Linked DNA regions of Homo sapiens: region 1 is linked to region 2. The links come from fine-mapping of genetic effects on gene expression. Tissue or cell type: whole blood. Region 2 holds a variant in brackets; the other region holds the start of a gene. Each region is shown on its reference strand, or each on the opposite one. Region 1 holds the start of ITPRIP (inositol 1,4,5-trisphosphate receptor interacting protein). Region 2 has its middle 50 kb from the start of REEP1.

What was found. PIP is the estimated chance that this variant, and not a neighbour inherited with it, causes the effect.
Region 1: it holds the start of ITPRIP, and the variant in region 2 is fine-mapped to the expression of ITPRIP in whole blood (TOPMed, PIP 0.95).

What each region holds. Positions count from the first base shown.
Region 1 is chr10:104,336,531-104,340,924 of GRCh38, reverse strand. It overlaps ITPRIP (inositol 1,4,5-trisphosphate receptor interacting protein), which reads left to right and starts at 2,460. Exons shown (of 2, transcript NM_001272013.2): 1 at 2,460-2,679. It also overlaps a transcript of CFAP58 not described here. RefSeq lists enhancers at 540-834, 3,583-3,782 and a cis regulatory region at 1-1,317.
Region 2 is chr2:86,385,048-86,389,441 of GRCh38, reverse strand. No RefSeq gene overlaps it. Among named protein-coding and RNA genes, the nearest start is that of REEP1, 50 kb to the right of the region's middle. The variant C/T (reference allele first, on the strand shown) is at 1,899.

The DNA.
Region 1 (4,394 bases), not on the chromosome of region 2:
CTGAGCCAATGGGGAGAGGGCTTTTTTCTATCCTCCTCTTACTAAAGGGCAGCCTTTCCAGGGTTCCAGCCTTAGGCAGAGATCTCAAGTCCAGATCCCTGTCTTTATAGAACTCAAGGCCTGAATAGATACTAACCCCAATCCCTGAGTGGGTACTCACCCCTGGTCCTTAGTCATTTGGGCTTATATTCATGTCATGCTTTTGAGTTCCCTTGACCTATCTCACACCTGGAGACCCCCTTTCTTCCCTTCCGTTGTTGATATATTTTATTCAGCCTTTCACTGTTCGAAGCAGGAGTTCCCTGACTTCTTGACTCCTCAAGTTCCCATAACTTGAATCTTTGTACTTTCCTATCTTTTAAAAAACATTTCTCGAGTTAGCACAGTGTTCTGTAGAAACGACAGGAGGGGTGTCCAATCCAGACATGAGGGTTCCAGGAAGACTTCCTGAAGGAGTAACTGCCTGTTCTGAGACAGGAAGACTGAGCATACAATTAGTCGGGCAAAATAACATGCATGTGCACTGGGGTGACAGTTTGGAGGAGGAGGTGGGGTGGCTGTGGCAGGCAGAAAGTAGAGTACATATGAATATCCAAGGGGAGAGAAAAAGCATATCATGCAAACAGCATATCAAAGAGCATATCACGTTCTGGGAAGCACAGGTTCCAAGAACTGCAAGGAGTTTTGTGTGGGACACAGAGTGAGATATGAGGCTGGTGAGATAAGCAGAGGCCAGTTCATGAACGACTTACAAGCCAGGTAGAAGGGTGGACCTTAGAACAGACAGGAACCAATCAGAACACAGAAGGTGAAATCATCAGGTTAAAAGCAAAACAAATATAATAAATATTCCTTATATAAATATACATGGCTGGTTAGAAATTGCTGAAACAACTTTGCAGACGGGATGACAATCCCAGAGGGCATTCAAGCACTAACCTTGGCATTCCAGCACAACGCTGAACTCTTAGCCCAAGGATGACAAAGCTCAGCCCAGCGCTCTTACTTCACAGAAATTTCCCCCACCTGCTTTGCGGAGGGTGTGAGTAACCCACCGGACCAACTTCTAGACATTTTGGAAATACAGCTCTTTCAAGACCGTTTCCCCAGATCGCCCCCACCACCTCCAACACACATACTGGCCCCCAAAATTCTGCCATAACCTCTTACGTAAGGAAAGAATTTGAGCAGCAGTAGAAACTTGAAAACAAAAGTACCCTGGGCCAAGGGCCAGGGAGTCTATTTTTAGAACATTTTCTCATTGCCTGTTTATCTTTCAGACTCAGCCAAAAAGTCTTCCAGGCGAGTGTTAAAGGAAAAGACGAAAAAAAGGTGATCTAAGACCAAATAGCAGTAGCAATGGTGATCATTTTGGACACTGTGTTCCAATTTCCCCAATGTGCCTTCACTGGCATTTGGTGCCCCCAAAGCCGCTTAATGGAGAATTCATTCAAACCCTGCTCTGCCTTTTGTACTGATGGTAGGATTTGGGCAGGTCAAAGGGAAGACAATAGAAGTTATGGATTTCATAAACTATTAAGCTCGACCAGAACGCTGCTGCTGCTCCTCCAGGCCTCAGTTCTCTCGTTTCTAACATAGGGGTAGTAACACTTGATCTACCGTCACAACAGTAACCAGAAACTACCGCGCCTGTCCCGTACAGTATCCGGTCACTGTTCTCCTTTGTGCCCGGTTAATCCCGGAGAAAAGCAACCATGCATTTGATTATCATAAAAGTCGGGCGCGGTGGCTCACGCCTGTAATCCCAGGCGCTTCGGAAGGCCGAGAAGGGAGTTCGAGACCAGCCTGACCAACATGGAGAAACACCTTCTCTACTAAAAATACAAAATTAGCCGGGCGTGGTGGCACATGCCTGTAATCCCAGCTACTCGGGAGGCTGAGGCAGGAGAATCGCTCGAACCCGGGAGGCGGAGGTTGCGGTGAGCCGAGATAGCGCCACCATTGCACTCCAGCCTGGGCAACAAGAGCGAAACTCCTTCTCAAAAAAAAAAAAAAACGGTAGTAAGCTATTTTAATCCTTTCAAGCTGCAAAAGAGAAAAAGGCTGGCGTTTTGTCTAGAGTTATATTTTCCTCCAAGAGACTAAATAGGTGGCCCCAGGAATTCCGCCACTTGTAAAACGCGCCGCAGAAAACTCTCCCCGACTGGTAAGGACTTAACCCCTTCCGCTCCGCGGCTTAGGACGACTTTTAAGGGCGTCCTCCCCGCGCCCCTGTCCACTCGCTCCAGTTTACTCCACTGGCCTGATTCCGTCTCTCCCAGTCACTCTCCAGTTCTGCCGTGCCGGGGAAGTTTCTGGGGGCTCACTGGGAAGGTCTTCCCGGCGGATCCTGGGCCCAACCACCGAAACCCACACGGTCCTCCTTAAGGAGCTTCCGGGGCCGCGGGTAGAGGCGGGTGTTTTGTTCTTATAAGGAGGAAAAAGTTTTTGTGACATCCAGGAAATGAGTAACTCTGAAGTTCAGTAGAGCCGGCCGCTGCAGGCCAGAAGGTGGGAGCCAGCGGGGGCATCGCCGCCCGCGCCCCTCTAAGTGCCGGGCCGCAAGCTCCACCGCAGCCGCCTGCAAGCAGCGGCGCCTCGGCCCTCGACCTGCGCGCAAAGCCTGTGCTGGAGCCGTCCTCCCGCGGCGGGGACCGGGACCGGGGACCCAAGCCAATCGTAAGTCCCAGGGCAGCCTAGTGTGCTGAAGGAAGAAGGGCGCGATGGAGAGCGCGAGCTCGGAGGAGCTGTGTCGGAGATGGCTGCCGACAGAGGGGGCGCAGGAGGGTGTGGGGAGCGCGGGCGCCTGCTCCTCCCGGGTGGGGGCTGACTTTGGAGACCCCCTTCCCTTAAAGCGCGCGTGCCCAGGCGGGCGTATTGTCTCCTCGCGGTCCCGCATCCTGTTCCCGCCGCGTCGGGGGATGCGTCCCGGGCGCTCGCTCCAGCCAGGGCTGCGGGCAGCTCCTCCTCGAGGCGCGCGCAGCCTCGGAGCCCAGAGCGGGACCACATTTTTGTTCCTAGTGGCCAGGTGACCCGTTACTTCTCACATCTGAGCAGAGCGCTACCGAAGAAAGAAAAGCCGGTTCGCCCTGCTCATTTGCTGCCCCCTTTTCCCCTTCCCCTTCCCTCCCTTCCTGTAAGGGAGGAATAGGCGTGAAGTTTTTTTTTCTCGGTTCATGGTAGTGAAGTTATGGGGCTGCTTCAGGCCGGATAAAATCCCCGCCGCTTCCTCTTTCGGGACTATTAGTGGGCCAGACCTCACGCTGTGCAGACTTGCTCTTGGGCTGCAAATAACTCTCTGCCCCTTCACCCCTAACCCCACCCTCAACCCCATCCCTGTGACTTTGCCATTCTGGCCGCCTGGTGAAGACTCCCGGGGCGGGACTCCCCATCCAAAACGCTTTCTCTTAAAAAAAGAAAAAGAAAAAGAAAAAAAAAGCCACCGACCAGGAAGGTAAAATATTTTACGGAACCAGGCAGGGGCCTCATTTTGCCTTTTGCCCCTCTGCTGGTATGAGAAAAGCACCCTTTCACAACTAGTAGAGTACCAGATACTGGTCTCATTTCACAAACAGTAGAGTACCAGATATTGGTCGCAATCTGGACTCTGGTCTTTTGGATCTAAATCGGGGTCGCGGTCTATTTTCTTGTTCTTTTTTTGGATATGACCCAGTGCTCTTGCCTTTTACAAACCGAGTCTATCTGACTGCCAGCTAAAGTTCATCTGTGGTTGGTGCAGTTTTAGGCCCAGGTGAGCCCTGAAAATAGAGTATCAGAAAAGTGGATTACTGTCTTTCCTCCTTACGAAAACAGAATAGGCTGTGTTTTTGAGTCCTCCCTCCAGCCCTCGTGCCTAAGTGGCTTTCATTGTTTGCTAATTCCCTGTATGTTGCGGCTGCTCTGGGCCATTCTGCCTTCGGATTTTCTCCACTTGTGGGTAACCATGAAGTAGTTATACTGACTCTCTGCTCTCCCTGGGTGCATTCTTCTCATGCTCAGTAAATCTACATTTTACGTAAGATAAAGTAAGCATGTGAAATTATAGCTATCTGTTTGGCAACAAAAGGAATGCAGTTTTGTTTTCGGTTTTGTTTTTTGCATGACTGAGTTCCCAAGCTTAACTTTTCCCTTTGGCATCCTGAGCTTGGGGTCCTAAGGTTGTATTTTCCTTTCACAGCTATCAGCAGAGACAGGTAGCCATCAACAGTTAGGAAAGAGTCTGGGCTGGGTGGCTGCCTGTCTTCCCAGAGCTTTGGGAGGCTGAGGTGGGAGGATTGCTTGAACCCAGGAGTTCCAGGCTTAGAGCTGGGATCACTTGGTTGGGATCACTTGGTTGGAGCTAGGATCGTGCCACTGCACTCCATCCGGGTGACAGAGTTCAGACCCTGTCTTTA
Region 2 (4,394 bases):
AGAATCAACAAAAAACTCCTAGAACTAATAAGTGATTGTAGCAAGATTGCAGAATATAAGGTTAATATACAAAAGTCAATAACTTTCCTTTATACTAGCAACAAACAAGTAGAATTTGAATTTTAAAACATGTAACCACTTAAACACTGATGATAGAACATGGTAAAAAATAAAAATAAAGAAATGAAAACACACTACCGTTTACATTAGCACCCCTCAAAATGAAATACTTAGTTATAAATCTATCAAATATGTATATGATTCATATGAACGGAACTGTAAAACTCTGAAAGATAGCAAAGAAAAACTAAATAATGGAAGAGATATTTCATGTTCATGGATAGGAAGACTCAATATTTTCAAGATGTCAGCTCTTTTCAATTTTACCTATGCATTCAATGCAATCCAACTCAAAATCTTAGTAAATTATTTTGTGGATATCTATAGACCAATTCTAAAGTTCATATGGAGAGGCAAAAGACTCAGAATAACCAACTCAATATTGAAGGAGAGGAAGAAAATCAGAAGAGTGACACTACCTGGCTTCAAAAGTTATTACAGAGCTATGGTAATAAAGACAGTGTAACACTAATTTTTTTTTAAGCTTGATAATGTTTTGTTGTGTTTTGAGACAGACTCTCACTCTACTGCCCAGGCTGGAGTGCAAGTGGCACAATCTTGGCTCACTGCAACCTCCACCTCCCAGGTTCAAGTGATTCTTGTGCCTCACCCTCCCAAGTAGTTGAGATTACAGGCCCACACAATCATATATGGCTAATTTTTGTATTTTTAGTAGAGACAGAGTTTTGTCATGTTGGCCAGGGTGGCCTTGAACTCCCGGCCTCAAGTGATCCGCCAACATCGGCCTCCCAAAGTGCTGGGATTACAGGTGTGACCCACCACGACTGGCCAGTGTGGTATTAATTTAAAAACAGGCTAAGCATGGTGGCTCACACCTGTGATCCTAGCACTTTGGGAGGCTGAGGTGGGAGGATCGCTTGAGTCCAAGAGTTCGAGACCAGCCAAGGCTACATAGTGAGACCTCGTCTCTATAAAAAATAGAAAAATTAGTCAGGTATGGTGGTGCATGCTACTCAGGAGGCTAAGGTGAGGGGATCACTTGAGCCCAAGGGTTTGAAGTTGAGGCTACAGTGAGCTGTGATTGTGCCACCACATCCCAGCCTGTGTGACAGAGTGAGGTCCTGTCTCAAAAAAAAAAAAAAAAAAAAAAAAAAAAAAAAAAAAAAAAGACAAATTGGGCAATGGAACAGAATAGAATAGAAAGCCCAGAAATAGACCCACATAAATATAATTATCTTTGGCAAAGGAGCAAGGGTAATACAGTGGAACAAAGATGGTTATTTGAACAAATGATGTTGGAACAACTAGACATCCACATAAAAAAAAATTCATCTAGACACAGACCTTATGCCCTTCACAGGAATGAACTAAAAATGGATTATAGATCTGAACATAATACACAAAACTGTAAGCTCCTAGAAGATAACATAGGAGAAAATCTAGGTGACCTTGGCCTTGGCAATGACTTTTTCAATACAACAACAAAGACAGATCTATGAGAGAAAGAATTGATAAGAGGGACCTCATTAAGATTAAAAAATTCTGCTCTGTGAAAAACAATGTCAAAAGAACAAGAAGATAAGCCACAGTTTGGGAGAAAATATTTGCAAAAGACACATCTGATAAAAGACTATCATCCAAAATATACAAAGAAGTCTCAACAATAAGAAAATGAACAACCCAATTAAAAAATGGGAAAATACCTGAATAAACACCACACCAAAAAATATATACAAATAGTATGCATACAAAAAGAAGTTCAACATCATATGTCATGAGGGAATTGCAAATTAAAACAACAATGAGACACTGCTACG[C/T]ACCCGTTAGAATGATCAAAATTCAGAACACTGACACCACCAAATGCTGGTAAGGATGTGGAGTAAAGGAACACTCATCCATTGCTGGTGAGAATGAAAAACTGTATGGCCACTTCAGAAGGCAATTTGGCAGTTTCTTGCAAAACGAAACATGCTCTTACTAGATGATCCAGCAATCACACTACTTGGTATTTACCCAAATGAATTGAAAACATTGTCTACACGAAAACTTGCACACGAATGTTTATAATGGCTTTAATCATAATTGCCAAAACTGGGAAGCAACCAAAATGTCTCTCAGTAGGGAATGGATAAATAAACTGTGATACCCCCAGGCAATAGAGTATTATTCACTACTAAAAAGAAACGAGCTATCAAGCCATGAAACAACATGGAGGAAACTTAAATGCATATTACTAGGTGAAAGTAGCCAGGCTGAAAAGGCTATATACAGTATGATTCCAACTCTTGGAATTCTGGAAAAGGCAAAACTATGGAGACTATAAAAAAGATAAGTAGTTGCCAGGGGTTGAGGGAAGGAGGGATTAAATAGGCAGAACATAGAGGATTTTTTAGGGCAGTGAAACTATTTTGTATGATACTGCAATGAGGGATACATGTAATTGTGCATTCGCCCAAACACATAGAATGTACCACAGCAAGAGCAGTCCCCAGTGTAAACTATAAATGGAAAAGTCCCTAAATGTTAACTATACAGTGGGGAAGTAGCAGTGTAGGTTTATGGATTGTAACAAATGTACCACTCTGGGGCAGGATGTCAATAGCTGGGGAGGCTGTGCACATGTGGCGCAGGGGACATATAAGAAATCTCTCTACTTTCTGCTCAATTTTGATGTGATCCCAAAACTGTTCTAAAAATAAGTGTGTGTGTGTGTGTGTGTGTGTGTGTGTGTGTGTGTGTAAAATAGCTTATACATATCTACTTTTAACATAGCTTATACATAATCTACTTTAAGGGGGGTGAGGTAGGAAAGAGGGAGCTGTACAATCAAATAAATATAATTGGTATGAATCTCACTCTTGCTACATTTGTTTTCCTTAAACCAACTTAAATCTGACCCCAGGACCTTGTCCTTCCTACATAATCCATGTTGGACACTGTTAGGTTCTTCTTCCTGCCGGGGTGTCCAAGATGCTGCTATAGAGCCCTGAGAATCAGAGGAACATCCCTACTCTGCATTTCATCACAGCTGCCTCTGTCTTCCTCATTGTCCAGGCCTGTAGTATTTCCAGGTAGGGTACCTTTTTGCTTTGAGGTCACATATGGAGCCCAGGAAACTTTGCTGAGGTTGGGGATGCCCTACTGGGGTCTCAGCCTCCCTCTTCTCCATACTCACTCATCCTCCTGAGGCCTGGCTACCCTCTCATGCAGGGTAAGAGTGACCACAGCTCACATGCCTCCGGACCTGGTTCCCTTTCCTTTCAATTGTGTGTGAGTGCAGGGGGAGGGCCTGATTCTCAAAGGCGTTGCACCTGTGTACACACCCATCATAATACTTTTAGCGGTGACCTGCACCATGACAGCAGACAGGGCTCTCTCTCAACACCATCCTGATGTTCTGCTTCAAGAAAAGTCCAGATGGTAAGGGACCACTTAGCTTGGCCACCTGGGAAAACTGGGAGAGGACAAGAGAAAAGTGGAGGGGGGCACAAAGAGGAGAAAAACAATTATTTTCTACTTTTTCAATAGATGATCGCACCTGGTAAGAATCAGGATGGGCCATGGGTGCTATTGAATTCCACTGGCTCCTCCTCCTTTCCCTCCCCACATCTGAGTTATGTCAGCTCTGTGAGGGTCCTCAACTCATGGGGCTGCCCCGCATCCAGGTTCCTCTCTGCTTGTGCCCCACATCTCATGGCTGGGGCCTCTGTTCCTCTTCCTTGGCCTTGAGGTAAAAAAGCCACTTACCTGCTGTCTCCACCACTACACCATGCATTCCCAGGGCCTCAGGGGTTTGGGGAGCTGAGTCTGGGGCCTGACATGTGGAGAGTGACGAAGACAGTTGTGTGAGAAAGGGATTCCACCTCTTTCTACCCAGCAAGCCATGAGAGCCAGGGGGGTAACCTCAACCTGCCTCTCCTCAGATTTCCTCACCTTGCAGCTGCCCAGGAGGCCTCAGGGGCAGAGGACACAGATGGGCCATTCCCGTGGGCATGGCTGCTCCCCCTCATGCAATTCCCTCTTAACCCGCTCTCTGAAATTCCCTATTTCTACTCCTTCCATGCACACCAGAGCAGCAGGAGCCAAGGGGCTGCAGGAAGTGGGTATCCCCAAGCTGCTAAAACTCCAGAGCCTTCCCAAGTTTTCTACAGGCCATAACTGTCTGAACATGGGCTCCAGCAGGTGGCTCACCTGGGACAGCCAGGGGAGTGTGATCCCCTCAGAACTCAGGGTGCACTGAAATCTCAGACCTCACCTGCCCCTCCACCAGAGTTACCATGCCTGACATTCCAAATGACCTCCTGAGTGTTCAG